Linked DNA regions of Homo sapiens. The protein of the gene in region 1 purifies or fractionates together with the protein of each later gene. This does not show direct contact. Each region holds a gene or a part of one and is shown on either strand. Other genes may lie near its edges.

Region 1 (5,882 bases):
AGTTCAAGACCAGCCTGGACAACGTGGTGAGACCCAGTCTCTACTAAAAATACAAAAGTTAGCCCAGCATTGTGGCACATGCCTATAATCCCAGCTACTTCAGAGGCTGAGGCAGGAGAATAGCTTGAACCCAGGAGGCGGAGGTTGCAGTGAGCCAAGATTCTGGGACTACACTCCAGCCTTGGCAACAAAGCAAGACTGTCTAAAAAAAAAAAAAAAAAATTCCAAGTCTTTCTTAAATATAGCTTTCTAAAATGTAGTTTTGAGTTAAAGCTAGGTTCTAAATTATTTAGTCTTAGAATCTAACAAGATATTTTCATTTTTTAAGATTGTTTTCAAGTAAAACTTGCTGTTTCTCCCTATCCACTTCCAACAATTGTCTGATTTATATGAGGCAAACACATCTCATATAAATATGACCTATAATAGCAGATAAATTATTTCTTAAAAAAGGAAAGAGTAAACATCTTGCCCCTACTACTTCTCAGTTCTTTCCACACTTCTTAGGAACAAATGTCAACAGTAGGCTGGGCAAGTGGCTCACGCCTGTAATCCCAACACTTTGGAAGGCTGCGGTGGGCATATCACTGGAGGTCAGGAGTTAGAGATCAGCCTGGCCAACTTGGCGAAAAAACCCCGTCTCTACTAAAAATACAAAAATTAGCCAGGCGTGGTAGCGGGCACCTGTAATCCCAGCCACTCAGGAGGATGAGGCAGAAGAATTGCTTGAACCCAGGAGGCGGAGGTTGCAGTGAGCCAAGATCACGCCACTGCACTCCAGCCTGGGAGACAAGAGTGAAACTCCATAATAAATAGATTAATTAATTAATTCTGACAACGCAGGACACAATTCAGAGACCTACTGATCTGAAATTAGACTATCAGTAGCTGGGCGCAGTGGCTCATGCCTGTAATCCCAGCACTTTGGAGGCCGAGGCGGGTGGATCATGAGGACAGGAGTTCAAGACCAGCCTGACCAACATGGTCAAACCCCGTCTCTACTAGAAATATAAAAGTTAGCTGGGTGTGGTGGTCCATGCATGTAAGCCCAGCTACTCAGGAGTCTGAGGCAGGAGAATCACTTGAACCTGGGAGGCAGAGCTTGCAGTGAGCCAAGATCACGCCACTGTACTCCAGCCTGGGCGACAGAGCGAGTCTCAAAAAATGATAATAAATTTAAAAAATAATAATTTAAAAACTTACAAAAAAAAAAGTTCCTACTTGTAGTAAACATGCCGGTCACTGCCTCTCCAAACACATGTCTTTCTCAAAGGACAACCCTAAGTACTTACAAGGTGACTCCCCTGCCTCTGGCCAGAGCTGATGGGATCAAGAATGGAATGGACTCACCCAAGCTAGGACCCAGAGAGACTGGGTCAGTTGGATGACGGTGGGGACTGGGACTGAAAAGTCAAAAGGGGCTGGAGCTGACCAGCCAATGCCACAGAAAAGCAGCGGTTAGAACAAAGAGAAAAGCCATGAATACACTGAGAAGCAAAAGAATGCAACATATATACTCAGAGACAGGAGAAATAGACCATGGCACACCACAAGAGGCAAAAGATGGCTTTGGTTAGTGATTTTCTAGCTTGGGTTCTGGCAGGGTCAGTTGCAATTTATTTTGTTTGAAAATTTTCATATATAAAAATAAAAAATAAACCAGAACTCCTGGACTCAAGCAATCCTCCTGCCTCAGCCTCCCAAGTATCTGCGACTACAGGCACACATCCCTGTACCCAGCCAGCTGCACTTTATTTCCTATCCTTGGATGTCCTAGTGCTTGCCCATTGTATCTCTTCAAAAAGTCCCCTTTCTGAAGACTCCTTAAAGAACTAAAACTAGAACTACCATTTGATCCAGCAATTCCACTACTGGGTATCTACCCAGAGGAAAAGAAGTCATTATATGAAGGCCAGGCACAGTGGCTCATGCCTTTAATCCCAGCACTTTAGGAGGCTGAGGCGGGCGGATAATGAGGTCGGGAGTTCAAGACCAGCCTGGCCAACATGGTGAAACCCCAACTCTACTAAAAATACAAAAATTAGCTGGACGTGGTGGCACACGTCTGTAATCCCAGCTACTCGGGAAGCTGAAGCAGGAGAATCGCTTGAACCCAGGAGGCAGAAGTTGCAGTGAGCCGAGATCACGCCACTGCATTCCAGCCTGGGCGACAGAGCAAGACTCCATCTCAAAAAAAAAAGTCGTTACACGAAAAAGACACTTGCACACGCATGTTCATAGCAGCACAATTTGCAATTGCAAAAATATGGAACCAGCCCAAATGCCCATCAATCAACAAGTGGATAAAGCAAATGTGGTATATATACCATGGAATACTACTCAGCCGTAACAAGGAATGAAATAATGGCACTCACTGCAACCTGGATGGAATTGGAGACTATTATTCTAAGTGAAGTAACTCAGGAATGGAAACACCAAACAGCTTATGTTCTCACTCATAAGTGGGAGCTGCGCTATGAGGACACAAAGGCATAAGAATGATACAGTGGACTTTGGGGACTCAGGGGAAAGGCGGGGGGTGGGGGTGAGGAATAAAAGACTACACATTGGTTTACAGTGTATACTGCTCAGGTGATGGGTGCACCAAAATATCAGATACCACCAATAAAGAACTTATTCATATAATCCAACACCACCTGTTCCCAAAAGCCTATTGAAATAAAAATTAAATTTTAAAAGTCCCCTTTCTACTTAGCTAGTTTGTTCCTTGTTTACTAAGCCACTTCTCTTCTTTCAAGCTTCTGGTCCAGTTTAATGGAATCTTCCCTGGTTCTCTCCACTTTACTCTGGATCCCATTTCCAGTTGCCTTTTCAAAGATGGCACAGTTATCCCTTCCTTCTCCTCTACATCATTCACCCCTTTTACTTCTGGATAATTCCATAAGCATACAAACAGGATCTGATTCCCCCCACCTAAAAAACAAAGTAAAAACAAATAAATGTCTCTTGACCCACATTCCCGAGCTTTCACCTCATTTCTTTTTGAAAAAAGGCTGGAGTGCAGTGGTGCGATCTCAGCTCACTGCAACCTCTGCCTCCCAGGTTCAAGCAATTCTCCTGCCTCAGCCTCCCGAGTACCTGGGACTACAGGCATGCGCCACCACGCCCGGCTAATTTTTGTATTTTTAGTAGAGACAGGGTTTCACCACGTTGGCCAGGCTGATTTTGAACTCCTGACCTCAGGTGATCCGCCTGCCTCGGCCTCCCAAAGTGCTGGGATTACAGGCATGAGCCACTGCACATGGCCTCACCTTACTTTAGTTCTCTTTGGCAAGAAAGGTTCTCCAGGTTACCTACAGTGTCTATTTGCTTGTCCTCACCTCCTCTTTACAGTTCAACCCACTCAGATCAGGATTTTATTTCTGCCAGTTTACCACTGTTGGTTCTGAGCAACATCAGCAATGTCTGTGTAGCAAAATCCAACTCGCTATAATTGTCTCACTTAACCTTTTAACACATCAGCAAGACTGGGCTCACCTTTCTTTGAGAAATATGCTGAGCAGTTAAGAGCCTGGGCTTACCAGCTCAGTATTCTTTGTTTGTTTGTTTTGTAGAGACAGAGTCTCACTATCTTACCAAGCTGGTCTCAAACTCCTGGGCTCAAGCGATCCTCCTGCGTTGGCCTTCCAAAGTGCTGGGATTACAGGCGTGAGCCACTGTGCCCTGCAAGCTGAGTATTTTTGAGCAAGTTACTTAGACACACTTACCTTGGTTTTCTTAAATACCCTCCACAGGCTGTTATGAGAATAAAATGAGGTAATATGTATAATCCACTGCAGAAACCCTTCCTTGTCTTGGCTTCCATTACAAACGTGGACTCCTTCCTACCTCATTAGTCATATTTACCTCAGTCTCCTTTACTATCTCATCTTCCCCTTCCAACCTCCAAGTGCTGAATGTCCCAGGGCTTTGTTCCAGGCCTCTTTTAATTTAACTTCACTATATCCTTAGTTATATCCAGTCCCATGGCTTTAAAAAGCATTTATGAGGCCGGGCACAGTGGCTCACGCCTGTAATCCCAGCACTTTGGGAGGCCAAGGCAGGCAGATCACGAGGTCGGGAGATAGAGACCATCCTGGCTAACACGGTGAAACCCCATATCTACTAAAAATACAAAAACAAAATTAGCCAGGCGTGGTGGCGGGCACCTGTAGCCCTAGCTATTTGGGAGGCTGAGGTGGGAGAATGGTGTGAACCCGGGAAGTGGAGCTTGCAGTAAGCCAAGATCACGCCACTGCACTCCAGCCTGGGTGACAGAGTGAGACTCTGTCTCAAAAAAAAAAAAAAAAGGCTTCTATGTGCTGATGATTTTCCAAATTTCTATCTCCAACCCTGACCTTTCAACTGACCACCAGACTCACACCCAAGCGCCAACCTGACAGCTGCAGGTGAATGTCCAAATCATAGCTCTCAATTTCCAACCCTAGAAAACCTGTTTGTGGCCAGGTGCAGTGGCTCACCCCTGTAATCCCAGCAGTTTGGGAGGCCGAGGGGGGCGGATCACGAGGTCAGGAGTTCCAGACCAGCCTGGCCAACATGCTGAAACCCCGTCTCTACCAAAAATACAAAAAAATAAAAATAAAATAAAATAAAAAAATAACAGGGCATGGTGGCACGCGCCTGTAATCCCAGCTACTCCAGAGGCTAAGGCAAGAGAACTGCTTAAACCCGGGAGGTGGAGGTTGCAGTGAGCTGAGATTGCGCCATTGCACTCCAGCCTGGGTGACAGAGAAGACTCCATCTCAAAAAAAAAAAAAAAAAAAAGAAAACCTGTTTGTTGCCGGTATTCTCAGGTGCTCAAGCCAAAATCATCCTTCATCCTTCCCTTTATTGCAATCCCTAAAATCCAGATACTGTGAACAGCGTCCAAAACATAACTAAATTCGTCCACTCTGCCTCATGTCTACTGCTGCCACCTAGTCCAAGCCACCATCTCTTGTTCCTATTAATGGCCTTCTACCTAGTTCCCTGCCTCCCCTGACACCTCTCTACAGTCCCTCCAGCTTTGAAAAATGTAAATCAGATCATATCACTCTACTGCTTAAAATAATTTAACAGCTTTTCATTGCTCTTGGAATTATATACAAATTCTTTACCTCATCCTCCAAGAACCTGCATGATCTGGCTCTAGGTTTTCTCTCCAAATTTACATCACTCTTGCTCTGTGCCAGCCACTGGCATCTCTTTGTTCTAAACCCTATCCCGATACCTCAAGGTCTCTGCAGTGTGCCTCTGCCAGTAATAGTCTCCTCAGGCCGGGCCTAGTGGCTCATGCCTATAATCCCAGCCCTTTGGGAGGCCGAGGCAGGTGGATCACTTGAGATTAGAAGTTTGAGACCAGCCTGGCCAACATGGTGAAACCCCGTGTCTACTAAAAATACAAAAATTAGCCAGGTGTGGGGGTGGGCACCTGTAGTCCCAGCTACTTGGGAGGTTGAGGTGGGAGAATCGCTTGAATCCAGGAGGCAGAAGTTTCAGTGAGCCGAGATCGCGCCGCTGCCCTCTAGCCTGTGCAACAGAGTGTGATCCTGTCTCCAAAAAAATCAAAAACAAAACAAAACAAAAAGTCTTCCCAGCTCTCCATGGCTGGCTCATTTTTATTCTTCATGTCTTTTCTTTTTTTTTTTTTTTAGACGGAGTCTCACTTTGTCACCCAGACTGGAGTGCAGTGGCGCGATCTCGGCTCACTGCAAGCTCCGCCTCCCAGGTTCACGCCATTCTCCTGCCTCAGCCTTCCAGGTAGCTGGGACTACAAGCGCCCGCCACCACGCCTGGCTAATTTTCTGCATTTTTATAGAGACAGGGTTTCACCTTGTTAGCCAGGATAGTCTCGATCTCCTGACCTGGTGATCTGCCCGCCT
Region 2 (5,882 bases), on another chromosome or scaffold:
GCCTCCAATCTAGCGCTGGCCCTCTGGACACACCTTATGAACTCTTAACTTGTCTTTTCTCATTCCTTTGACCCCGCCAGACTTTGTAGCCCTCAGGGCCTGGTGTTGGGCCCGATCACCTCAACATCCCATTGTGATTTTAATTTGCATTTCCCAAAAGGCTAATAATGTTGAACATCTTTTCATATGCTTACTTGCTACCTTTATAGGTTTTTCTTTTAGCCCATTTTCTTTTCTTTCTTCTTCTTTTTTGTTTTTTAAGTGACAAAGTCTTGCTCTGTTGCCAAGGCTAGAGTGCAGTGGTACAATCATAGCTCACTGCAGCCTTGAAGTCAAACTCTTGGGTTCAAGGAAGCCTCCTGCCTCTGTTTCCCTAGTAGCTGGGATTACAGGCATGCACCACCGCACAAGCTTTTTCCCCTATTTTCTAATTGTATTGTTTGCTTTCTTGAGTTTAGAGAGTTCTTTTTTTTTTTGCAACAGAGTGTCACTCTGTTGCCCAGGCTGGAGTGCAGTGCCGCGATCTCACTGCAACCTCTGCCTCCCAGATTCAAGTGATTCTCCTGCCTAAGCCTCTGGTGTAGCTTGAACTACAGGCACCCACCACCACACCGGCTAATTTTTGTATTTTTAGTAGAGACAGGGTTTCACCATGTTAGCCAGGCTGGCCTCAAACTCCTAGCCTCAAGTGATCCACCTGCCTCGGCCTCCCAAAGTTCTGGGATTACAGGCATGAGCCACCGCACCCAACCTCTTGAGTTCAGAGATTTCTTTACATAACCTGGATACAAGCCCTTCTTTGAATATGTGATTTGCAAATATTTTCTCCCAGTCTGTGGCTAAACTTTTCACCCTCTTTACAGGGTCTTTCACAGAGCTAAGTTTCAAACTTTTTTTTTTTTCTTGAGACAGAGTCTCACTCTGTCTCCCAGGCTGGCTTGCTGTGGCGCAATCTCGGCTCACTGCAACCTCCGCCTCCCAAGTTCAAGCGATTCTCCTGCCTCAGCCTCCTGAGTAGCTGGGATTACAGGTGCACATCACCACGCCCAGCTAATTTTTGTATTTCTAGTAGAGATGGGGTTTCACCATGTTGGTCAGGCTGGTATCGAACTCCTGACCTTGTGATCTGCCCGCCTCGGCCTCCCAAAATGCTGGGATTACAGGCGTGAGCCACCACGCCTGGCCAGTTTTGAACTTTTATGGAGTCCAATTATTGTTTTCTTTTATGAATTTTTTGGTGTCATGTCTAAGAACTGCTTACCTAGCCCTAGGTCCTGAAGATGTTATCCTATGTTTTCTTTTTTTTTTGAGACTGAGTCTTGCTCTGTCGCCCAAGCTGGAGTGCAGTGGTGCAGTCTCGGCTCACTGCAACCTCCACCTCCTGGGTTTGAGCGATTCTCATCTCAAACTCCTGACCTAAGGTGATCCACCCACCTTAGCCTCCCAAAGTGCTGGGAATTCAGGCATGAGCCACTGCACCCGGCCGTGATATTATCCTATGTTTTCTTCTGAAAGTTTTATAGTTTAACATTTCATGTTTAAATCCATTTTAAGTGGACATTGATTTCACAAATAATCCATTTTACATTGATTTTTAAAAAATACTGTGTGAGGTTTAGGTCAAGGTTCATTTTTTTGCCTATGATGTTCAATTGTTCCAGCCCTATTTTTAGAGAAAGAAAAAAAAAAACTATCCTCCCTCCATTGAATTGTTTTTGCACTTTTGTTAAAAATCAGTTGGGCATATTTGTGTTAATCTATTTCTGGGTTCTCTATTCTGTTCCATTGATCTGTCTGTTCCTCTGCCAATACCGCAGTGTTTTGATTAATGCAGCTATATAGTAAGATTTAACAGTAGGTGGAATGATTCCTCAACCCATGCTTTCTTTTTCCAACATTTTAGTTATCCTAAAATGTTCTAGTTTTTACTATTCTAGCTCTATTCATGCTGCTTATCCTTGCTTTTAAGGTCTTCCCCATACCTAGTAGAGGTATGGTAGCCTGGAGAAGAAAGGGGAAAAAAGAAAGAATCATGAAGGAAAAAAACAAATATTATATAACTACTACCCTAAAACATTACTCATGTAATTTTTATCCATCCATCCTTCAATGGAGTCCCAATTTCTCCATGAAAGGTTCTCTACTATTCCAAGCCATCTCTCTATGTGGTAGCTCATTAACCACAAGTCATTTGTTTCCTTCTGTTAGATATTTGTAAATATCTTTTGTGTCAACTCATCAAGGGACAGGGTCCATGTTTCAGACTTCTTTTTTTTTTTTTTTTTTGAGACAAGGTATCACTCCATTGCCCAGGATGGAGCACAGTGGCACGACCACAGCTTACTGCAGCCTCGACCTCCTGGGCTTAAGGTATCCTCTCAGCTCAGCCTCCCATGTAGCTAAGACTGCAGGCATGCACCAGCAACCCGGATAATTTTTGGTATTTTTTGTAGAGATGGGGTTTCACCATGTTGCCCAGGTTGGTCTCAAACTCCTGAGCTCAAGCAATCTGCCTACCTTGGCCTCCCAAAGTTCTGGGATTGCAGGTGTGAACCACCACACCTGGTCTAGACTTCTTTATATCACTTCATAAGTTTCAATAAACATTTAATTAATTATTTATCTAATTATAGTTTACAACAGAGAGATCCTAGAAAATCTAGATGAACAAGAGTAACAATGAGCTAAATGCTCCTCTATTCCTAGTAACAGAATCATTATCTCACCAAACCTCAAGATTTTTAACCTCATTTCTCATTTAGTGTTAAAGAATATATGTCACATCTAGGCTGTTTTTCCCTTTTCTTGACAAGATGTCTTAGGTAAAGAGATCAGTGAATAGCAAATTATGGTGGTTTCCTTTTTTTTTTTCCTGCTGTTTGCTAACAAAGTCACCATTCACGTAAACTTTAGGGCTATTAGACATGATTCACCCCTAACATACCATGTAGCTTTATTCGAAAAGTAAATGGCTCCAGCCTGGGCAACAGAGCAAGACTCTGCCTCAAAAAAATAAAAATAAAAAAACAAAAAAAATACAGCTGCTTAATCCTTGATTTTAGTTATAATTTACAATAATCATTACCTGCTTAACCTCTGGATCAAATGCCTGCTCCTTTGCTGAAATAACTGTGTACAGTGTATATACAAATATATACAGATACATATCCACACCCCAAAAGTTTCTTCATTGGCTGTCTATGAGTTTAGGCTGTTTAAATAATTTGCAACACATTATTGTAGTAAATAGAATAAAATTATATGCAGATTAGCTCTTTCTTTTCTTACAAAATACAGCAACACATACATGCTAGGACAACTTTGCAAAAACTTACTTATTCTGTGCCTTTCCAGTTCTGTCACTGTACTATAGTACTACAAGGCAGGTTAGGCAACAATTAGGAAAGTTTCAGAACCATTAGTCTCACAAACTTTCATCTAGGATGCCTCTGGTGGCCTCTGAAGAGATCTTCTCCAAACCCTCATCTGATGCTATTGCAACTAAGTAGACGAACTACGGTTCTCAGAATATACACATTAATAAGGCTCTTTTTAGCTTCACCCTTTTCACTTCTGTGCTTTATGATGGACTACAATACTCATAATGCAATACTACAGCCCCTATCATTGACACTATCATTTCCATCAAACACAAAGAAACCTCCTTCTGGATTACCAAAAACTAAGAAATCTGGGCCAGGCGCAGTGGCTCATGCCTGTAATTCCAATACGTTGGGAGGCGGAGGTGGGCAGATCATGAGGGCAGGAGCTAGAGACCATCGTGGCCAACATGGTGAAACCCCTTCTCTACTAAAAATACAAAAATTAGCTGGGCGTGGTGGCACATGCCTGCAATCCCAGTTACTGGGGAGGCTGAGGCAGGAGAATTGCTTGAACCAGGGTGTCAGAGGTTGCAGTGAGCCGAGATCAGGCCACTGGGCACTCCAGCCTGGCGATAGAGCGAGACTCTGTCTCAAAAAAAAAAAAAAAAAAAAAAAAAAAAACTTAAGAAATCTCTTAGTTCTAGTGTTATGAGAACTAGGAGTAACCTGAACTCAGAAGTTGTTTATGAGAGTATAAACTGGTACATTCACTTTAGAAAGCATTCTAAAGATAAACATGTGCACATCCAACAATTACGCTCTTGTTTTTATATCCTCGTGACATGAACACCAAAAGATATGCAAACATATTTATAACAGCATTTTTCATAATATTAACAAATGCAACAACCCAAATGTTAATTACAAGATGACTGTGAGGCCCGGCGTGGTGGCTCACGCCTATAATCCCGGCACTTTGGGAGGCTGAGGTGGGCAGATCACGAGGTCAGGAGTTCAAGACTAGCCTGGCCAATATGGTGAAACCCTGTCCCTACTAAAAATACAAAAATTAGCCAGGCATGGTGGCGGGCGCCTATAATCCCAGGTACTTGGGGGGCTGAGGCAGGAGAATTACTTGAACCCGGGAGGTGGAAGCTGCAGTGAGCCGAGACTGTGCCACTGCACTCCAGCCTGGGCAACAAGAGTGAAACTCTGTCTGAAAATAAATAAACAAACAAAAGATGACTATGGTATATTCACACAACAGAATTTCACACACAGTAAAAACCTAATGAACTACAGTTAAACACACAACATGGATGAATCTCAGAAACCATGAATTTTAAAAAGGAAGTCACATAAGGTCATATGCAATAAACTATCATATTTGTACATTGCAAAGAAACCAGTAAAATGAAACATTATTATTTAGAAAAATAACAATGTAATTTTACTTATTTCATTTTATTTTGAGACAGGGTCTCTTGCCCAGACAGGTGTGCAGTGGCACAATCACGGCTCACAACAGCCTTGACCTCCCAGCTCAAGCAATCGCAATCCTCCCAAGCAGCTGGGACTACAGATGTGCATCCCCACGCCCAACTAATTTATTTTATTTTTTGTAGAGATAGGGTTTTGCTATGTTGCCCAGGCTGGTCTCGAACTCCTGGGCTCAAGCAATCTTTCTACTTTGCCTCCCAAAGTGCTGGGATCACAGACATGAGACACCACACCAGGACCCCTGGTAATTTTGAAAAGGAAAAGTGTTTAAAAACAGTTTAGTGGGAGTCAGGGAGATGGACTGAGGAGTACACATTTAGCTTCAACAGGACTGGTAAAGTTACAATTCTTAAGTTGGGTAATAGTAGGCTTATTCGTTTCATTAAGCTTTAAACATATGTGTATGTGTTTTGAGTGTGTATCATCTAGAATCTCTGGAAAACTAACATTCCAGCTAATCATAAGGTGACATTCCTGATAACTGGGAACGATGCCAAGGAATAAAATCACTTTATTATTACTATTTGATAACTTTTGTAGTAAGAAAATGACAGGTGCCTCGAAAAATTAAAGCAAGGGGTGGGTAAGGGAAGTGAGTGTGGCTAAAAAAGCAACATGAGGAATCCTTATAGTGCTGAATATGTTCTTTATCTTAACTGTATCAACATAAATACCCTGCTTATGATATTACACCATCGTTTCAAAAGATGTTACCATTGGGAGAAACAGGGTTAGGTGTATATTAGATTTGTGTTATTTCTTCCAACTGCATGTAAATCTAAAACTACTTCAAAATAGAAGTTTACTTTTAAAAACAACAATAGAAAAAGGTCCTTTTAGTCCTGGATTTCTCCACCTTGGCACTACTGACATTTTGCAGCACCTAATTATTTCTTGTGGGTCTGTCCTGGGAATTGAAGGGTAGCATCCCTGGCCTCTATCCACTAAATGCCAGTAATGTGCCTCCATTCGTGACAACCAAAAATGTCTCCATACATGCCAAATGTCCTCAGGGGGGGAAAATTGCCCCAGTTGAGAACCAGTGCTCTAGTCATAAAA
Region 3 (5,882 bases), on another chromosome or scaffold:
CCTCCTGGGTTCAAGCACTTCTCCTGCCTCAGCTTCCCAAGCAGCTAGGATTACAGGCACCCGTCACCACGCTCAGCTAATTTTTTGTACTTTTAGTAGATTCGGGGTTTCACCATGTTGACCAGGCTGGTCTTAAACTCCTGACCTCAGGTGATCCACCCGCCTCGGCCTCCCAAAGTGCTGGGATTACAGGCATGAGCCACTGTGCCAGGCCAAGATATGTTTTTGATAAGGAAAGTTGTAAAAAGCATGAAAATGTGTATTTGCTGAGAAAAAATAATTTCATCTATCTAGTTTAGAAGATATTTGAAGGTTGTTTCAAAATGAAGGAATTTTTTAAAAGATACAGATAAAACTAAATTAATATAGCAAGGTGGAAAAAGAAAGAGAATAGAAAAAATTGGCTGGTCGCAGTGGCTCATGCCTGTAATCCCACAACTTTGGGAGGCAGAGACTGGTGGTTCACTTGAGGTCAGGAGTTCAACACAAGCCTGGCCAACATAGCGAAACCCTGTCTCTACTAAAAATACAAAAATCAGCCAGGCATGGTGGTGTACGCCTGTAGTACCAGCTACTCAGGAGGCTTAGTCATGAGAATCGCTTGAGCCCAGGAGGTGGAGGTTGCAGTGAGCCAAGATCATGCTATTGCACTCCAGCCTTGGTGATAGAGCAAGACTCTTGTCTCAAAAAAAAAAAATAGAAAAAATGCTAAGAGATTATAAAAGGTTTATGAAAATCCAATTTGTTTATAAGCTTTTAATAAAATTAGCTGTAGTTTTAGTATTGGTAATATACTAATACAAAAGTAAAATTTGGTTTTCTCTTTTGAACAAGAATTTTGTGTAGTATTAAGAAGAAAGAAAGAGTAAATGTGTTTGTTTACCTTTTAAGTAAACTGCAAAAAAAGAAAGAGGGGAGAGGAGAGACAGATTCCATCTCATGCTATCTATTAGGATTTCTGATTGTGTGGAAAATAGAGTCAATCCTCTATCGAAGAATAAATGGTTTTGCTTTTAAAAACCTTTTAATTACCACTTTGGCTAAAGGTATGACAATTATTTTACAGTGATCTTTGATCCTATTTTGATTAAGTGCGTTAAATCTTTGACAAATTTGATGCACTTCCAAAATCAAATTTCAAATTGAAAGTTTAGTCTTTTGACCTCAAACTAACTTTGAGACGTTACACAGAGGGTCCTTGCAGCATCCAAGAGAGAGATAAGAAACAAGCTTATCTGGTAAGTTAAATTACATGGGAAGCATTGTCAAATAAGAAATGATGTTTAATCTTCTTTGAGTTATAGTTTATGGATATGTTACTAATATATAGTCCAAAATTGTATAAGCCTCCTAAAATTCTGGTGTGTCTTGGTATGTTATCAGTCCTAATTATGGTGATTATTTTAAATTAATTATTGTAGGCCACAGAAATAACCAAATTTTCTTGTCAATTGTGTCTTTAACCATGACCATTTTAAGTCATTTCCACAGTTAACTGCTTAATTCTGATGCATTTTCAACCAAGCAGCCTGTTCATTAATCCCCTACAACTGAATCTCCATAATACCTGATGTAGACATCCATGTAAAACAAGAAGCGCCTGTAATCCCAGCACTTTGGGAGGCCGAGGCGGGCGGATCACGAGGTCAGGAGATCGAGACCATCCCAGCTAAAACGGTGAAACCCCGTCTCTACTAAAAATACAAAAAATTAGCCGGGCGTAGTGGCGGGCGCCTGTAGTCCCAGCTACTTGGGAGGCTGAGGCAGGAGAATGGTGTGAACCCGGGAGGCGGAGCTTGCAGTGAGCCGAGATCCCGCCACTGCACTCCAGCCAGGGCGACAGAGCGAGACTCCGTCTCAAAAAAAAAAAAAAAAAAAAAAAAAAAAAAACAAGAAGTATCAACAACTGCACAGATTCTTCCCCACTTAGCCAGTAGGTAATCTAGAGCAATTCTATTATCTAGTACAACTTTAGTAAGAGAATGTAAAGGATTTTGTTGTGCAACCATAGCCTTTGCAGTAGAATCTACTATAAAACCTATTATGAGGGATATTATCAAAGAAAGATCTTTAGTACAAGAGCTAGAGTCAAAAATCAATAATAATGTGATAGATGCAACTAGTTAGCTGAAAACACAAAAGAGAACAGTGATCCTTGAAATGTCTATCAAGATTAAACCCTGCTGAAAAGCAAAGGGAGGAAGTAAAAAGACAGGAAAAAGAAGAAAATTAAACACAATGGAAGAGTGACAATTGGCAGAAGTAAAATCAGACTTTAGAAACAATAACAGGATGTCATGAAGCAGACCTCCTTACACAGCAGAAAAGAGTTTACCATAACTACAAGGAATGAATGAGAATAGAGTAGAAAAGTCTGAGAGCACTGAGGAGGAGGGAGGGGCAGACTAAGCCCAGCACATTTCACTACCACTATGACAGAGTCTAAAAAGCATGCCAACTGAAACAGCAGTGTTCTGGAGGCATTTGGTGTAATGATTAGCATGTCTACAAATAGAAGTAACCTCAAAGAAACTTATTGTATTAAAATATAGTATATAAGGACTCCGACATCTGGTAGAAGCTAAATTATGCTCATTATATTTTTACTAAGGCAGATAAAAAATGCAATATGTTCAAATATTTTATCATCAAAAGCAATCAAAGTAAATGTCTCAGAGCTTAGGAGAAATGATTTTGTTACCTACAGTCTTTTATCTACAAGAACCTCTTATTTACTCTTACCTCTTATTGTCTGTCTGAGGTAATTTTAATATATAACTACTTGTTTTTATGTGTTTTCCTTTACTTAAAGCAGACATAAACCTGTGAGTCAAAGACAAGGCTACAGTCCTGTAAAGCTACATACTAACTAATTCAGATGACTTGGGCAAGATGCTAATAAAATCTACACTCAAGGATTTAGTCCCTATTTGTTCAAGTTATTTTATACCCAGACACACCAAAGGAAACCAGACAAGAGTGTGGTTATGCAAACTCATCACTATTTTTAGAAAAATGAAAACAATCTCCACTAATAATGGCAAAATATCACATCATCTCAAACTTTCAAGATCGTGATCTGTAGTTCCACCTGACCCTCTGGATGACCCTATAAATTGCTGACTTTATATTACTTCAATTTTCCTATCCACAAATTTGATCATAACAATTTGTCACAAATAAAAAATAGGCAATAAATGACTATTAAGGTGAAAAACAGCAAATTAATTACTGATAAATTAAACTATACATATAAGTGTTTGACTTACCTGGAAGCCATATTTCCCAAATTTCTAATATTTACAATTTAGTCAAGAATTTAGAAGTGAAGAGACAACACAATCAAGGAAAACAATTACCCAAAAGTTTATTTAATAGAGAGGTGAAGAGTCTGATAAGGAATCACCTTTCTGTCCTCCTTTTAATTTCCCTTCCCTTGAATCTGAACTGGTTTTAGTGACTTGCTTGACCATTACATGCAGCAGAAATAATGTTCTGGAACTTCAAAAGCTAGGTCATAACAAGTCTGTGGTAGGATGAATAATGGCCCCCAAAGATATCCCACATTCTAATTCCCTAACCTGTATATATGTTACATTATATGGCAAAAAGAATTTTGCAAGTGTAATTAAATTAAGGATTTTGAGAGAGTGAGATTATCCTGGATTATCCAGGTAAAACCTAAATATAATCATGAGGGTTCTTATAATAGGGAGGCAAAAAGGTCAATGAGGGAGCAGAGATTTTAGTGATGTGTCCAGGAACCAAGGAATCCCAAAAGATGAAAGAAGCAAAGAATACATTCTGCCCTGGACTCTCTAGAAGGACAGAGCCTTGCTGACACTTTGATTTTAGTCCTTTAAGACTTATTTTGGACTTTGTACTTTGACAACTCTAAGAGAATATGTTGTTTTATGCCACTGTATTTGTGGTGTTACAGCAGCAATAGAAAACTAATACAGGCCGGGCGTGGAGGTTCACGCCTGTAATCTCAGCACTTTGGGAGGCCGAGGCAGGAGGATTGCTTGAGGTCAGGAGTTCCAGACCAGCCTGGCCAACCTGGCAAAACCCCACCTCTACTAAAAATACAAAAATTAGCCAAGTGTGGTGGTGTGTGCCTGTAGTCTCAGCTACTCAGGGAGGCTGAAGCAGGAGAATCGCTTGAACCCGGGAGGCAGAGGTTGCAGTGAGCCAAGATCACACCACTGCACTCCAGACTGAGTGACAGCACGAGACTCCGTCTCAAAAAAGAGAAAGAAAACTAATACAAAGTCTTACAGCTTCTACCCAGCCCCCTTGGAACATTTTCTCTGGGATCCCTGACCTAAGTATTACAACCATGCTAACATTGTCATGCTGGTGAGGCCACATCCATCTCCTTGGGTCAACAGTTCCAGTTGAGGCCAGCCCTCCAGCCATCCACCAAAGTACCAGACACATAAACAAACCGATGTTGGACCTTCTGACCAGACCATCAGCCAGCCAAAGTTTATGTAATGACCTCCATAGATACCATAAGAAACAGCATCCAGCTGAGCCCTGCCTATATCCTTTTTTTTTCAATTTTATTTTTTTATTTCCTATGAACTCTGTACCTGCAACTGCCTATATTCTTGATCCACAAAATCATGAGCTATGATAGAAGGGTTGTTATTTGAAGTCACACGTAACTCTGGACATGTTATATGTAAGTGATGATTAAACACTGTTAAACAGCATATATGCCTTTCATAATGGAAAAAAAAAAACTTTACTTGATTACTTGATTATCTGTCTTCTACTGGCAGTAATCCCTAGTAATAAGACCATTCCAACATACCCCGTAACTCTAAAGAACTCAGAATTAAGCTTGCTGAAATATACTACTGTAATTAGGTTCTTTCCATATTGGTAAAATAACTGATTGTAGCAAAGCTTCATTTAACTGAGTGTAACTCAACTTATAGAAGCCCATGGCTCATCAGAGATCTCTCACTCCTCTTGCCTCAATTCATACTTCTTATCCACGTCCTTGTTCTTCCCCTCTTGCCGGGCCTAGGTGGGGCTATACTTCCCTTATTCCTTTTTACTATCTCAACAAAGGCACTGAAATATCTTTATTCACGTATCTTTATTTGCAGTATAAAATGTTTTTCTTGCCCTTTTTCTTATTGGACAAAAGCAAACTATTCCCAATCCATTCCAGAGGCTCATAGCTTAAAATAATTTATATTTAGGCTAGGCACGGTGCTCACAGCTGTAATCCCGGCACTTTGGAAGGCTAAGCTCGGTGGATCACCTGAGGTCAGGAGTTCGAGATGAACCTGGCCAACATGGTGAAACCCCACCTCTACTAAAAATACAAAACTTAGCCAATCACAGTGGTGCATGTCTGTAATCCCAGCTTCTCAGGAGGCTGAGGCAGGAGAATCGCTTGAACCTGGGAGATGGAGTTGCACTGAGCTGAGATCGCACCACTGCACTCCACCCTGGGCAACAGAGTGAGACTCTGTCTCAAAAAATAAAAAAAATTTAAGAAAAGAATTTCTATTTTCTCACATAATCCTGAGCAATGGGCTGAAAAAAAATAAGGATAATCTTGTTAAAGGTCCAAGATCTCTAGTGAACAGGGATTCCATAAGAAAGCCTAATTTATTTTTAAGTGTTTTAGATACTCAATTTAGTATAAGCTCTTTATCTTTCAGTCTTTCATTTTGTCAACGTCCTCTTATACTATATGGCAAGTTCTCAAAACAAAGCTCTTCACCCTACCTTAAACAATCACAAAAAATGGGGGACTACAAGATTAAAGTTTAGAATTATTTGGTTAATGTATACAGACGTAGATAAATGGTAAAAAATGTCAAAAGCACACAATTACCACTCACATAGAGTAATCAAAA
Region 4 (6,458 bases), on another chromosome or scaffold:
TGTCTTGCTCTTTTCAAAACCAAGCTGGCTGCTTCCTAACAGCTCGTATTTTTCTAATGACAGCAAATTATTGTTTAATAATTTTAAAAGTCTTTATTGGTCTCCTAATAAAAGGACTATGCTTTTAACATTTGTGTCCCCCTAAAATTCCTATATTGAAACTTAATCACCAATGTGATGGTATTAAAAGGTGGAGTCATTGGGAGGTGATTAGGACTTGGAGAGTAGAGCTCTCATAAACAGGATTAGTTCCCTTATAAGAGGGGCCAAAGAGCTGCCTTGTCTCTTCTACCACATGAGGACACAGCTAAAAGGCACCGCCTATGAACCTCAAGACCTCACCAGACACTAAATCTGTCAGCACCTTGAACTGTGAGAAATAAATTGCTCTTGCTTATAAGTCATGTAGTTTATGGTATTTTGTTATACCAGCCCAAACAGACTAAGATAGACTATTAGTCTAAGAAATTATTTCTCATATGCACATTAAATCCCTCTTCCTGCAAATGAAGTCCACATCTTTGTATCATAACCTAATGTTCCAGTTAAGTTTAGGCATCACTGAACTACAAATAACCCCTTCAGGTCCTTTTTTTTTTTTCTTTTTTTTGAGAGGAAGTCTCGCTCTGTCGCCCAGGCTGGAGTACAGTGGCGCGATCTCGGCTCACTGCAACCTCCGCCTCCAGGGTTCAAGCAATTCTCCTGTCTCAGTCTCCTGAGTAGCTGTAGTCACAGGTGCACGTGACCATGCCCAGCTGCTTTTTGTATTTTTAGTATGGACGGGGTTTCACCATATTGGTCAGGCTGGTCTCGAGCTCTTGACCTCAGGTGATCCACCTGCCTTGGCCTCCTAAAGTGTTAGGATTACAGGCATGAGCCACTGGGCCAGGCCGCTTCAGGTACTTTAAATGTCACTGAATCACCTCTCACCCTTTTCAGTTCCATGATCTATAATCCACTTAAAGACACCCTTATTTCTCTTGTAAGTTCTGTTTTTGTTGTTGTTGTTTGTTTGTTTGCTTGTTTTTGAGACGGAGTCTTGCTCTGTCGCCCAGGCTGGAGTGCACTGGCGCGATCTTAGCTCACTGCAAGCTCCGCCTCCCGGGTTCACGCCATTCTCCTGCCTCAGCCTCCCGAATAGCTGGGACTACAGGAGCCCGCCACCATGCCCGGCTAATTTTTTTTGTATTTTTAGTACAGACGAGGTTTCACCATGTTAGCCAGGATGAATAAGTTCTGTTTTCTATTCTTTTAGTATATTTTGGGACGACTGTTGAATAATCACTGTAGTTTCTTCATAGGCATCTTATATTGTTAAATTTAAATATGAACTAGAACCTCTAAAATATAGAATAGGAGGATTATTTCCCTAGTGTTGTTATTATATTCCCACTTCAGTTAATATGAAAGCCAGGAGTAAAGTATTTTAATTTTTATCTACTCTGCTAACTCTTAGCAGCCAATGGTGGAAGAGTAGGAAGGTGGAACTTGCTACTGGGAGAAATTAAAGCTCCCATTCTTGGTCCATGAGGTCAGACCAACAAATGAAAACAAAACAGTACCTATCCAAAAGAACTACCATATTCCACAACCCAGGTCTAGGGCATATACTGGGTGAGAAATACTTACAATGAATTCCAGTAATCACATACATGTGGGACTGTGTGTGTGTGTGTGTGCGTGTGTGTGTGTGTATATATATATATAAAATATATATGTGTGTGTGTATATACACATAAAAGTTCATGAAACAATACTTCACTTAAGATGTAAAAAGCACTGCTATTTTCTTTATATTCTACTGAATTTCATCTAAAAAAGTGCTAATCCAACCCACTAACATTATTTCATAACACTGCTCTAAGGTTCCTTTCAGCTCTAAAATATTATGCTATATACTAATGATCGTCCTAAAAGTATGAATTCAGTAATTATTTTGTAATCTTAATCACAAGTCACAAATTTGCAGGTACCTCAGGTTACCTCAGCTTCTACTTTGAAAACTTTGTAATCATTCCTTTCTCACCCTGTTTTAAAAAAAGGATGGCAAGAGTTCCATGCCTTTAAGAAACAGAAAACAAAGGTAACATCTTTCCCTTGTTTTGCACACTGAGGAAATGGTAACTAAAGGAAATGGTAGGATGTAAAGGACAGAGTGGAAGAAGGAAGTTGTGGAGATAGCGTTCATGGAAAGAGAGAAAGCTAAATTTGTATTGCCATTGCCTCCTCTGAGATTCCTAATAACTTCTCCTTTTCCCTCTTCCCCCTCATTCTTCCAGCTTAAGAAATTTTATCTTAAGATATCTAATTTTATCTAAGATAACATTTACAAATTTTATCTTAACTTCATCTGCCTTATTGGAGAACTACAGAACAAAAACCATTCCCAAGAGATCATGTGTTAGAAACTTTCAACCATAAAATACTTTAAAAACCTTAATGAAATCATCTAGATTCGCTTCGTTAGCCTAATCTGCTATTTCCTATCTTGAATGACTCACTACAGTCTAAACTACGTGCAGTTCTAGAAAAGGTCCATGTTCTCTCTGACTTGTGGGCCTTTGCACATGCGATTCCTTCTTTAACTGGCTAACTTCTAATTTTTCAGCTCTTGCCTTAGATATCAGTTACTTAAGGCAATCTTCACTACCTTACAATTAGACTTAATACCCCTCACATATACTGTCCCATACCTTGTACCTTTCCCATTATTACACAGCTCCACTATATTTTAATTGCCGATTAATTTACATATTTCCCACTAGATTTTAAGCTCTTTAAAGACAGGACTTATATTTTGTTTGCTCCTGTAGAGGTGTTCAATAATTACTGAATGAATTATAAATGTCATTCCATCAGCCTTCCACATGCTTAGTGTCATTCCCTATTCTCCCTGTTCAGAACATTCTCCCCAGTTCTATCACCAGCATGAAATACTCTTTATAACCTGGTCCTTAATTATCACTATTTCCTCTGGATGCCTATAGCCTTTATTGTACATACTATTCATTTGCTAATTAACCCACCACTGTGTTTTTCAGTTATTTTTGTAATGCATAGATCCAATCTCCTTAACTAAACTGTACAATCCTTGAAGGCATAACTGTATGTCTCTCTTAGTACCCTATCATCTAGCACAGGGCTATGTACAAGGTAGACGTTAAATATTTGTAGATGAAGAATCAAAATTTAAGAGGTTGTTTCTCATACAAAACTGACAATATTTTAAAGTGATAGTGATAAATACGTGGTGGCAATTAAACCTCTTGTCAATACACAGAAAATAAAAAGATATACTTTAGTACAGTTAAGTACAAATAATTTTTTAAAAAACCGTTCCTGAGTGAGAGGTAATAATGGACTCAAATTTTAGGAGGCACTACAACCATAGCTACATTCATAAGTTAAGGATAAGTAGCCTATGGCTTCCAAAATGACCTGTGCACAGAGAACATCACTGTATTTTTCAGATCTAGGACAGTCATATTTATACAAGAATTTAGGGCGGTCTATGTTTTGGAAAGATAGTTACGGTTTTGGCCTATCAAGAAGCACGCCTGTCAGCAAGGGAGTTAACTGGCGCCACCTGTTTATAGATAGCTTGCTGTCATTACAGTGCTCTCCGAATTGCTAATTCCAACTGAGTAAAATCTGAACCACAGATAAACTGTCCCAAATTCCATTACTAATTGGGGAAAATAATCCAGTCTTCCTCGTCTTTAGAAAGGCAAGCAGGCTGGGAATGGTGTCTACCCCAACTCTTAATATGAGAGAAAAACTATGACTCCGAGAGCCTCCAGCGCTCCAGGTGTCCTCTGCCCAGAACCTCCTGCCCCGTTTCCCTTTGCTGAACTCAAAGGTTTTCTTCTTCGCCCTTTCCTCAAATTACTGACGTTAATTTCCTTCACTTACTGCTGCTCCCAGTTAGCCATGACTTTCTTCTTGGTGCTCTCTCTGCCCCGAGGTCAGGAGGGCAACCTTTTCCCTACAGGTCCCCTTGCCCTTCACCCTATTCTTCCATGTCAGTGGCATCTCACCTGGTAGGCTCGAGCGGTTCCCAAGGCGCCGAGTTGATGTGGCCTCCACTGCGGACCTGAGCCGCTAACAGAGACTAAAGGCCGGATCAGAATCGCGGAGTGCCGGCGCTTTTCGAAAGCAGCCGCCGCGGCCGCCCAGCGCCAAGAATGCATCGCGAGCAGCGCCATCTTGAGCGAGGAAAGAGGAACCGAGAGAAGAGGATTATGGGACACTGGCGGACTGAATTCGGCTACCTTAATTGTCTCTCCTCTTCTTGTTTTCCCAGGGCCCCAGACCGGAAATGGATTCTGTTTGAAGATTCGGATGCATTCGCACAGCCTCTTTTATTTGTTTTTCCTTAGGGCCGAGCTTTGATTGTTTTCCTTACACAACCGGGAATATTGGAGTAACACTGTATTTTTCTCTTTTCCTGGAGTTGCCAGATGAAATACAGGATGCCTACCTAGTTAAGTTTCAATTTTACATAAACAACGAATCATCTCTTCGTGCGTGTGTCCCAAATATTGTATCTGCTAAATCTGTCAACCCCATCTTGTCTCTCATAATACTCTCTTACCTCCTCCAACTCAATGTCACGCTCCCCTCTCTCCATTTTCCCTATGCATATTCTTATCTTCACTCCCTTCTGAATTAAGGAAAGATTAAACTACAGACGTTAATTTCCCCTGGGAGGAGGCTTCAGCTGTAAGATTTACTGCTTTTCTGTCCTGTAAGGACTTTAACTTTGCTGATTGTTCTCTGTTGCGCAAACCTTGGGGCAGTTTTCCTTTGGTCTGTTGCTCGTGGGACAGTCTCACACACACACACACACACACACACACAGAGAGACTACAGACATCTTTACTAATTTTGTCACTCTTTCTAGCTCTTCGCTTTGGTTTTTGCAGCGTCCCTAATTCTTGAAAAATCGCTTAGGTTGGCTGAAGGGTGGTAAAGTGAAATGTATGGAGAGAAGACCATGTTTAAAGACAGGCTTATATTCTTTTGTCACCACTATTATCAAACAAAATGTCAAAATATGTTTACAGTTATCTAGGAAACTGCATTTCCAGTTGTAAATGTTACCTGAAACCCCGGAGACAATAATGCAGTTGCAATTTTATATTCACTGCTGCATTCTCCAACTTTTCACACAAAAGAGACAAATAATTATGGACTTCTTATGAAGAGGTACTTTGGACTAGTAAGTCTGATAAAGAAAAACAGAAATCTGTAGCCCATGCAGTTAGCTTTTTTGTTCTGGGATTCATTCAAGGGGATGCTTGAGCTAGTTATTTAAAGAAAAATAGAATTCAAGTTGAAGAGGTTGACTGGAATTACACGTAAAGAAGATGACATGTTAAAAGCAAGAAGGCATAAGAAAATATTTTCAGGTTCAGGAGTCTATGGAGTTTGGGAAAGTAGTAGGAGGTTAACCTGAGTGAACAGAGACCTGATGGTAAAGGGCCTTCTATTTCATTCTAAGAAGTTAATACTTTATCCTATAACCAGTGAAGAGTTTTAATCAGGAGAGTAACATGATCAGATTTATATGTCCATTAAGCTACTCTGGCTTAAGTGAGAAGGTTGGATTGGACGGAGTTCATATTGAAGTCATGAAGTTAATGCAATAGTTCAGTCATAAAATAAAGGCCTCAACCTAGCAGTAGCAGTGGCAGTAGATCGATTGCAGGGCAATTAGGAGATGGAATTGGCAAGACTTAGTGACTAATTGGATGTTTCTAGCTTATTATTGTATTGTTGACAGTAGATCAGTAATGGCTTCATATTAATGACTATATTGTCATCAACAAATATTTATTCAGCATCTATTCTGTGTTAGACAGCTACAGTATACATTAGAGAAACTCTAGACTCTACTAATGATTTCTCTTAGGGCTGAATATTGCCACTGAATCTTACCACCCAGTTGTAAAGTCTTTGAATGGAGCCAAATTATTTTTTTCCAAAAGTAGTGCTCATTGTAAGCCAACTGTTTTGATCAAAAAGTGTGAATAACATTGAAATACCCAAGTTGTTACTCTATGATGAGCTAAAGTGAGGCAAATATTTATTTGCCAAATAAGCCGAAGAAAATTTCCAGGGCACCCAGAAATAGAACGTGAGGCATAATAAGAGTTGCACACTGCTGGGGAAGAGCAGCAACAAAAAGGCCAACTCAGCCTGTAATAACTTGACACATAACTGTCTGACATAAATTAAAGAGACAGAGGTATACACAATAAAAGCTGCTATAAATAGCTGCTACAACCACAGATCACATGATAGCACTTTATGTATGCAATAATTAAATGTGTATAGTATTTTGTAACTTACAATCCGCTTTGTCATACCTTATTTCATTTAGTCCTCACATCGACCATGGAAGATAGGTATTATTTATTAATATGCCCATATTTATGAGGAAACTGAGGCTAAGA
Region 5 (5,882 bases), on another chromosome or scaffold:
ATCTTGGCTCACTGCAGCGTCCACCTCCTGGGTTCAAGCAATTCTCCTGTCTCAGCTTCCTGAGTAGCTGGGACTATATAGGTGTGCACCACTACACCCAGCCAATTTTGTATTTTTAGTAGAGATGGGGTTTCACCATGTTGGCCAGGCTGGTCTTGAACTCCTGACCTCAGGTGATCCACTTACTCAGACCTCCCAAAGTGCTGGGATTACAGGCATGGGCCACTGCACCTGGTCATGTATACGCATTTAATACTAAAAAGATGGCAACTCTTCCCACAGTGTTCTCTATATATTCAATGAAATACTAATAAAAATTACTATAGGTTGGCTGGGCACGGTGGCTCATGCCTGTAATCCCAGCACTTTAGGAGGCTGAGGCGGGTGGATCATGAGGTCAGGAGATTGAGACCATCCTGGCTAACACGGTGAAACCAAGTCTCTACTAAAAATACAAAAAATTAGCTGGGCATGGTGGTGGGCACCTGTAGTCCCAGCTACTCGGGAGGCTGAGGCAGGAGAATGGTGTGAACCCAGGAGGCAGAGCTAGCAGTGAGCCAAGATTGTGCCACTATACTCCAGCCTGGGTGACAGAGCGAGATTCTGTCAAAAAAAAAATTACTATAGCTTGTTCCTTTGCAGAAATTGACAGGCTGAGTCTAAAACTTATATAAAAATGCAAATGGCCAAGAATAACCACCTGTGCCAATCAGTCAAAACCCTAATACATGTGTGATATAATGAGAGGGACTAGGGAACTTCATAGCAAATTTTTTTTCCACACATTGTTGCTGGCTTAGAGATAACAAATTCTTATGCCACACTTCCTACTTACCTTTCTATACTTTGCTAGTAAAGTTCCATCAGGCCCAAACACAGCACAGGTGTTATATAATTTCCCAGCATCCTCTTCAGGGATAGAGCCTTTCATTGAGAGAAGAAACATACCATAAGAAAAAGAATAGAGCAATTCTTTTGTGAGAAAGGGATAAAAGCCTGATAACTTGGGTCCAAAAATAAAGAACCTATCTTTTACGGTTTATTTATTCATTTTGTTTTTAGAATAAGGCAACACCTCATTCTATAATACAGAATAAGTATTCCCTTCTATGGGTTACTTAATCATGGTTTTTTTTTTCCTTCTTGAATATGATCTTTCAGAGATAAACTCCAGAGTGTAGATGGGATATGATTAGGTTAGATGCCAAAGACAGGTTTAAAAAATAACCAAACTGTTCCTGAAATTCAGCCATGATCTTGAGTAACACTTAATCTGTAACATTAGGGCAAAATGAGAAATTTCCCATTGCTTAACTTGAATTCACCAGGTTCTGCAACAAAACTGTGTCCCAAAAGATGAGAACGTAAAGTCAGAAGCCTCTCCATCACTGAATGCAGTTTCATCTCCAGGCTTCTTGCTTTGCCTTCATTTCTAATTCTTAATATATCATCATACAGAAAAAATTGTATTTGCTATATTTATAGAATTTTTCTGTGTTTATTTTTTATTTAAGCAAATAAAACCTTTAAACATTTATTCCAAAACCACAAAAATAAAGCTACCTTTATGTATGTGGCCTCTATGGAAAAAAATTTTTTTTCTCAATCCTCTATTAGTATAGTAAAAAACAGTCCTGGCATGATGGCTCACACCTGTAATCCTAGCACTTTGGAAGGCCAAGGTGGGCAGACTGCTTGAGCCTAGGAGTTCAAAACCAGCCTGGGCAACAAGGTGAAACTCTGTCTTTACAAAAAAATACAAAAATCAGCCAGGCATGGTGGCGCACACCTGCAGTCCTAGCTACTCAGGAGGTGGGAGAATCACTTGAGCCTCGTAGGGTGAGGCTGCAGTGGGCCATGATCACACCACTGTACTCTAGCACGGGTGACAAAGCAAGACCTCACCTCAAAAAAAATAAATAAATAAGAAAAAGAAACTCTCTGCTTCAGCTTCCCAAGCTGAAGCTTCCCAAGTAGGGAATACAGGCGCACGCCACCACACCTGACTCATTCAGATGTTTCTAATGTTTAGGTCATTATACCTTGTGGGTAGGAAGTTACCTCCAATGAGATATATGCTGCATTCCTTTGCTACTTCAGAAAGCTTCTGTGTGGATTCACCAGGAATTTTCTCTGCATATTCAGGAAAATATTTCGCTCCATATGGAGAATTAAAGCATTCCTAGAAAAATATTGGCAGAGAAAAAAAAAGATCAAAACACCCACCCATTTTAAAGTTCTGCTGTAAGAGGCCATAGCTGCTGCTTCTAGCTCTGCTTTCAGTCGAAGGGTTAAAACACAGCTAATAAGAAAAACACTGACATCTCAAGGGTAAAGAGCCTGTAGCCACAGGTAAGACTACAAAGCTAGCCTAGTGGGTTGGAGGAGACAAATCACAGGTGTTCTCCCAGAGCTCATTTAAAAAAAAAATGTTGGAGGCTTAGTGCTAAAACCAATATGTTCTGGTTCTATAAAGACTTAGTTAAATAAGGAACAAAGTATCCAAGCACTGAGTATTTTAGTTTTCCGTAAGTCCCTCAATATACTAGGATTTTGGCTTCCTCATCTGAACAAAGAGGAAGATCCAAAACCTAAAGACCTATGACCGTGTTGGCACATCCTATCTCACAAAGAACCTTGCTAAGGTCATCCTCCAGTCAGACTCGGAACAATCTATGGGCTCCAAGGGACACTGCTGGACCCCAGGATACAAGAGGACAACCAGAGCTAGCAAACACCGTTCTGCTTGGGTGTACAGTGGCTAGAACAGAATGGCTGCTCCCATACTGACCGGCAAAGAAACTATTTTGGCTCCTTGCGTTGCTGCCTCCCGGATGAAGCTACAAGCGCGAGTGACGTTATCTGATTTGATGGAAGAAATCTGAAGCTGGATGAGGGCCAAGCGGAAAGCTGAGAACAAAGACAAAAGAAAACAGCTATCAGAAGATCGAACTGCTGGATTCAGACAGAGCCATAGTTCTCAAATGGAAGGCAGTTATGTCCCCGGGGGGACATCTGACAATGTCTGAAGATACCTTTGATGCCACAACTGATGAGGTATGAGTGGCATCTAATGAATAGAGACCAAGGATACTGCCAAACATCCTACAATGCATAGGACAACCCCCTCCATAACACAACGAAGAATTATCCTGTCCAAAATGTCAATAGTCTAAAATCTATCTGGAGATAGAGCAATATCCATGGGCAAAGTCCCATGCCAGGCACAAGAATCTAGAGTGAACCAGCTTCTTACTACGCAGTGTAGGGAATGAAATGAGAATATGGCTTAAAGTAAAAAGACTGGGTTTGAATATGGTCCTGTCCCTTACTGTTTGTTCATGGGCCTCTCGTCTACCTCCAATCCATATACTGAGTATGTCCCAGCACAGAAAGTGTGATTCCTTGGAAGCTGCTCACATAATTCCCATGAGCAGCCCAGCTCATGGGAAGGGAAGATGTCTGTCTCAGTTTCCCCACTACTGGCTGGGTCACAGCACATCGATCCCGCTGCTGGCAGAGGGAAAACCTGGCAGCCAGTGAGCTGCACACATGCCTATTCACAGGACAGGGGTCCCAGGCACCTCTAAAAGTCTGCACTTACCCCATAAGTATTCATGTGTCCAAGAGAACATGATATTAAACAGCAAATAACACCATGAGAGGTTGAAAGAGATACTGCAGAAGGAAAAGCTAACAGCACTTTTCTCTTGCTATCTGAACAAGGGAACTGGGCCCCACAAATTATGTAGCCAGCCCTGACAAGGTCTGTGCTCAGCCCTGGAGCAAGGAGGTTGGGGGCTCTTCCAAGCTTATTTCTTCCTGGAGGTAGTAGCTATACATCATATTTGCTTTTCTTCTGTTCTTTAAAGTTCCCTTTTAGCTTTTATGATAATCACTTTCCATTAGCTAATATTTTTTATTTTGAGGCAGGGCCTTGTTCTGTCGCCTAGGCTGGAGTGCAGTGGCACAAACATGGTCCACTGCAGCCTTGACCTACTCAGTTCAGGCAATCCTCTTGTCTCAGCCTCTTATGTAGCTGGGACCACAGGTATGCACCACCATGCCGGGCTAATTTTTTAATTATGTAATTTTTTGTAGAGACAGGGTCTCACTTTGTTGCCCAGGCTGGTCTCGAACTCCTGGGCTCAAGCGATCCTCCTGCCTCAGCCTCTCAAACTGCTGCGATTATAAGCATGAGCCACCACGCCTGGCCAGATAATAATTTTTTATATAAAATTTTCCGCCGGGTGTGATGGCTCACGCCTGTAATCCCAGCACTTTGGGAGGCCAAGGCAGGTGATCACCTGAGGTCAGGAGTTTCAGACCAGCCTGGCCAACGTGGTGAAACCCCGTCTCTACTAAAAATACAAAAATTAGCCAGGTGTGGTGGTGGGCACCTGTAATCCCAGCTACTCAGGAGGCTGAGGCAGGAGAATCAGTTGAACCTGGGAGTTGGAGGTTACAGTGAGCCAAGATCGCGCCACTGCACTCCAGCCTGGACGACAGAGTGAGACTCAGTCTCCAAAAAAATAAATAAATAAATAAATAATTTTCCTTGTTCGAGTTACTAGTGTTGTTTCCATGTCCTGTCTGGACCCTGATGGATACATAGTTCCTGCTTATGGTCTGGTGGGACGCAGCAGTAAAGGATCCAAAGCACATTATAATCTATGAAGCTCTGCAAAACTTCAGGAATTATTAGTGTAGGGAAAAGAAAGAGCGATCAGATTATTACTGTGTCTGTGTAGAAAGAAGTAGACATAGGAGACTCCATTTTGTTCTGTACTACGAAAAATTCTTCTGCCTTGAGATGCTGTTAAACTATAACCTTACTCCCAACCCCGAGCTCTCTGAAACATGTGCTGTGTCCACTCAGGGTTAAATGGATTAAGGGCTGTGCAAGATGTGCTTTGTTACAGATGCATGAAGGCAGCATGCTCCTTAAGAGTCATCACCACTCCCTAATCTCAAGTACCCAGGGACACAAACACTGCGGAAGGCCGCAGGGACCTCTGCCTAGGAAAGCCAGGTATTCTCCAAGGTTTCTCCCCATGTGATAGTCTGAAATATGGCCTCGTGGGAAGGGAAAGACCTGACCGTCCCCCAGCCCGACACCCGTAAAGGGTCTGTGCTGAGGAGGATTAGTGCAAGAGGAAGGAACGCCTCTTTGCAGTTGAGACAAGAGGAAGGCAGGCATCTGTCTCCTGCCCGTCCCTGGGCAACGGAATGTCTCGGTATAAAACCCGATTCTATGTCCCATCTACTAAGATAGGGAAAACCGCCTTAGGGCTGGAAGGGGGACAGGCGGGCAGCAATACTGCTCTTTAAGACATTGAGATGTTTATGTGTATGCATATCTAAAGCACAGCACTTAATTCTTTACCTTGTTCATGATGCAGAGACCTTTGTTCACGTGTTTATCTGCTGACCTTCTCTCCACTATTATCCTATGACCCTGCCACATCCCCCTCTCCGAGAAACACCCAAGAATGATCATAAATACTAAGGGAACTCAGAGGCCGACGGGATCCTCCGTATGCCGAACGCTGGTCCCCTGGGCCCCCCTACTTCTTTCTCTATACTTTGTTTGTGTCTTTTTCTTTTCCAAGTCTCTCGTTCCACCTAACGAGAAACACCCACAGGTGTGGAGGGGCAACCCACCCCTTCAATTAGTAATGGCCTGCCCGAACTTCCCATCCCACCTCTGCTCCAGAGTCTGAAAATCCTACCATTAGAGAGCTATCTCTTTTGGGTGTTTCCTGTAACAACGCAAATGTCTCCAGAAAAGGCAACAATGACAAACCCTGGCCTCTGATGAAGGCCTGTTTGGCTCAGGGTTAACTAAAAGGAAAACTCAGATGTCCCATTCCTTGATCTAT

What was found.
Region 2: the proteins of ACAT1 (region 1) and PDSS2 purify together in Homo sapiens (affinity purification with mass spectrometry; one large-scale study listed by BioGRID and IntAct). This does not show direct contact.
Region 3: the proteins of ACAT1 (region 1) and TMEM65 fractionate together in Homo sapiens (co-fractionation; one large-scale study listed by BioGRID). This does not show direct contact.
Region 4: the proteins of ACAT1 (region 1) and ABCB7 fractionate together in Homo sapiens (co-fractionation; one large-scale study listed by BioGRID). This does not show direct contact.
Region 5: the proteins of ACAT1 (region 1) and NIT2 fractionate together in Homo sapiens (co-fractionation; one large-scale study listed by BioGRID). This does not show direct contact.

The regions. Positions count from the first base shown.
Region 1 is NC_000011.10:108,125,695-108,131,576, reverse strand, and holds part of ACAT1 (acetyl-CoA acetyltransferase, mitochondrial isoform b precursor), read right to left. Parts: intron 3,692-5,882; exon of another isoform or gene 3,598-3,691; intron 2,935-3,597; exon of another isoform or gene 2,718-2,934; intron 2,475-2,717; exon of another isoform or gene 2,376-2,474; intron 1-2,375. UniProt on the Homo sapiens protein: This is one of the enzymes that catalyzes the last step of the mitochondrial beta-oxidation pathway, an aerobic process breaking down fatty acids into acetyl-CoA.
Region 2 is NC_000006.12:107,451,780-107,457,661, forward strand, and holds part of PDSS2 (all trans-polyprenyl-diphosphate synthase PDSS2), read right to left. Parts: intron 1-5,882. UniProt on the Homo sapiens protein: Heterotetrameric enzyme that catalyzes the condensation of farnesyl diphosphate (FPP), which acts as a primer, and isopentenyl diphosphate (IPP) to produce prenyl diphosphates of varying chain lengths and participates in the determination of the side chain of ubiquinone.
Region 3 is NC_000008.11:124,361,978-124,367,859, forward strand, and holds part of TMEM65 (transmembrane protein 65), read right to left. Parts: intron 1-5,882. UniProt on the Homo sapiens protein: Essential for maintaining proper cardiac intercalated disk (ICD) structure and function as well as cardiac conduction velocity in the heart.
Region 4 is NC_000023.11:75,152,068-75,158,525, forward strand, and holds the start of ABCB7 (iron-sulfur clusters transporter ABCB7, mitochondrial), read right to left. Parts: upstream 4,217-6,458; 5' UTR 4,206-4,216; coding exon 4,038-4,205; intron 1-4,037. UniProt on the Homo sapiens protein: Exports glutathione-coordinated iron-sulfur clusters such as [2Fe-2S]-(GS)4 cluster from the mitochondria to the cytosol in an ATP-dependent manner allowing the assembly of the cytosolic iron-sulfur (Fe/S) cluster-containing proteins and participates in iron homeostasis.
Region 5 is NC_000003.12:100,336,115-100,341,996, reverse strand, and holds part of NIT2 (omega-amidase NIT2), read right to left. Parts: intron 2,911-5,882; coding exon 2,792-2,910; intron 2,183-2,791; coding exon 2,062-2,182; intron 925-2,061; coding exon 836-924; intron 1-835. UniProt on the Homo sapiens protein: Has omega-amidase activity. The role of omega-amidase is to remove potentially toxic intermediates by converting 2-oxoglutaramate and 2-oxosuccinamate to biologically useful 2-oxoglutarate and oxaloacetate, respectively.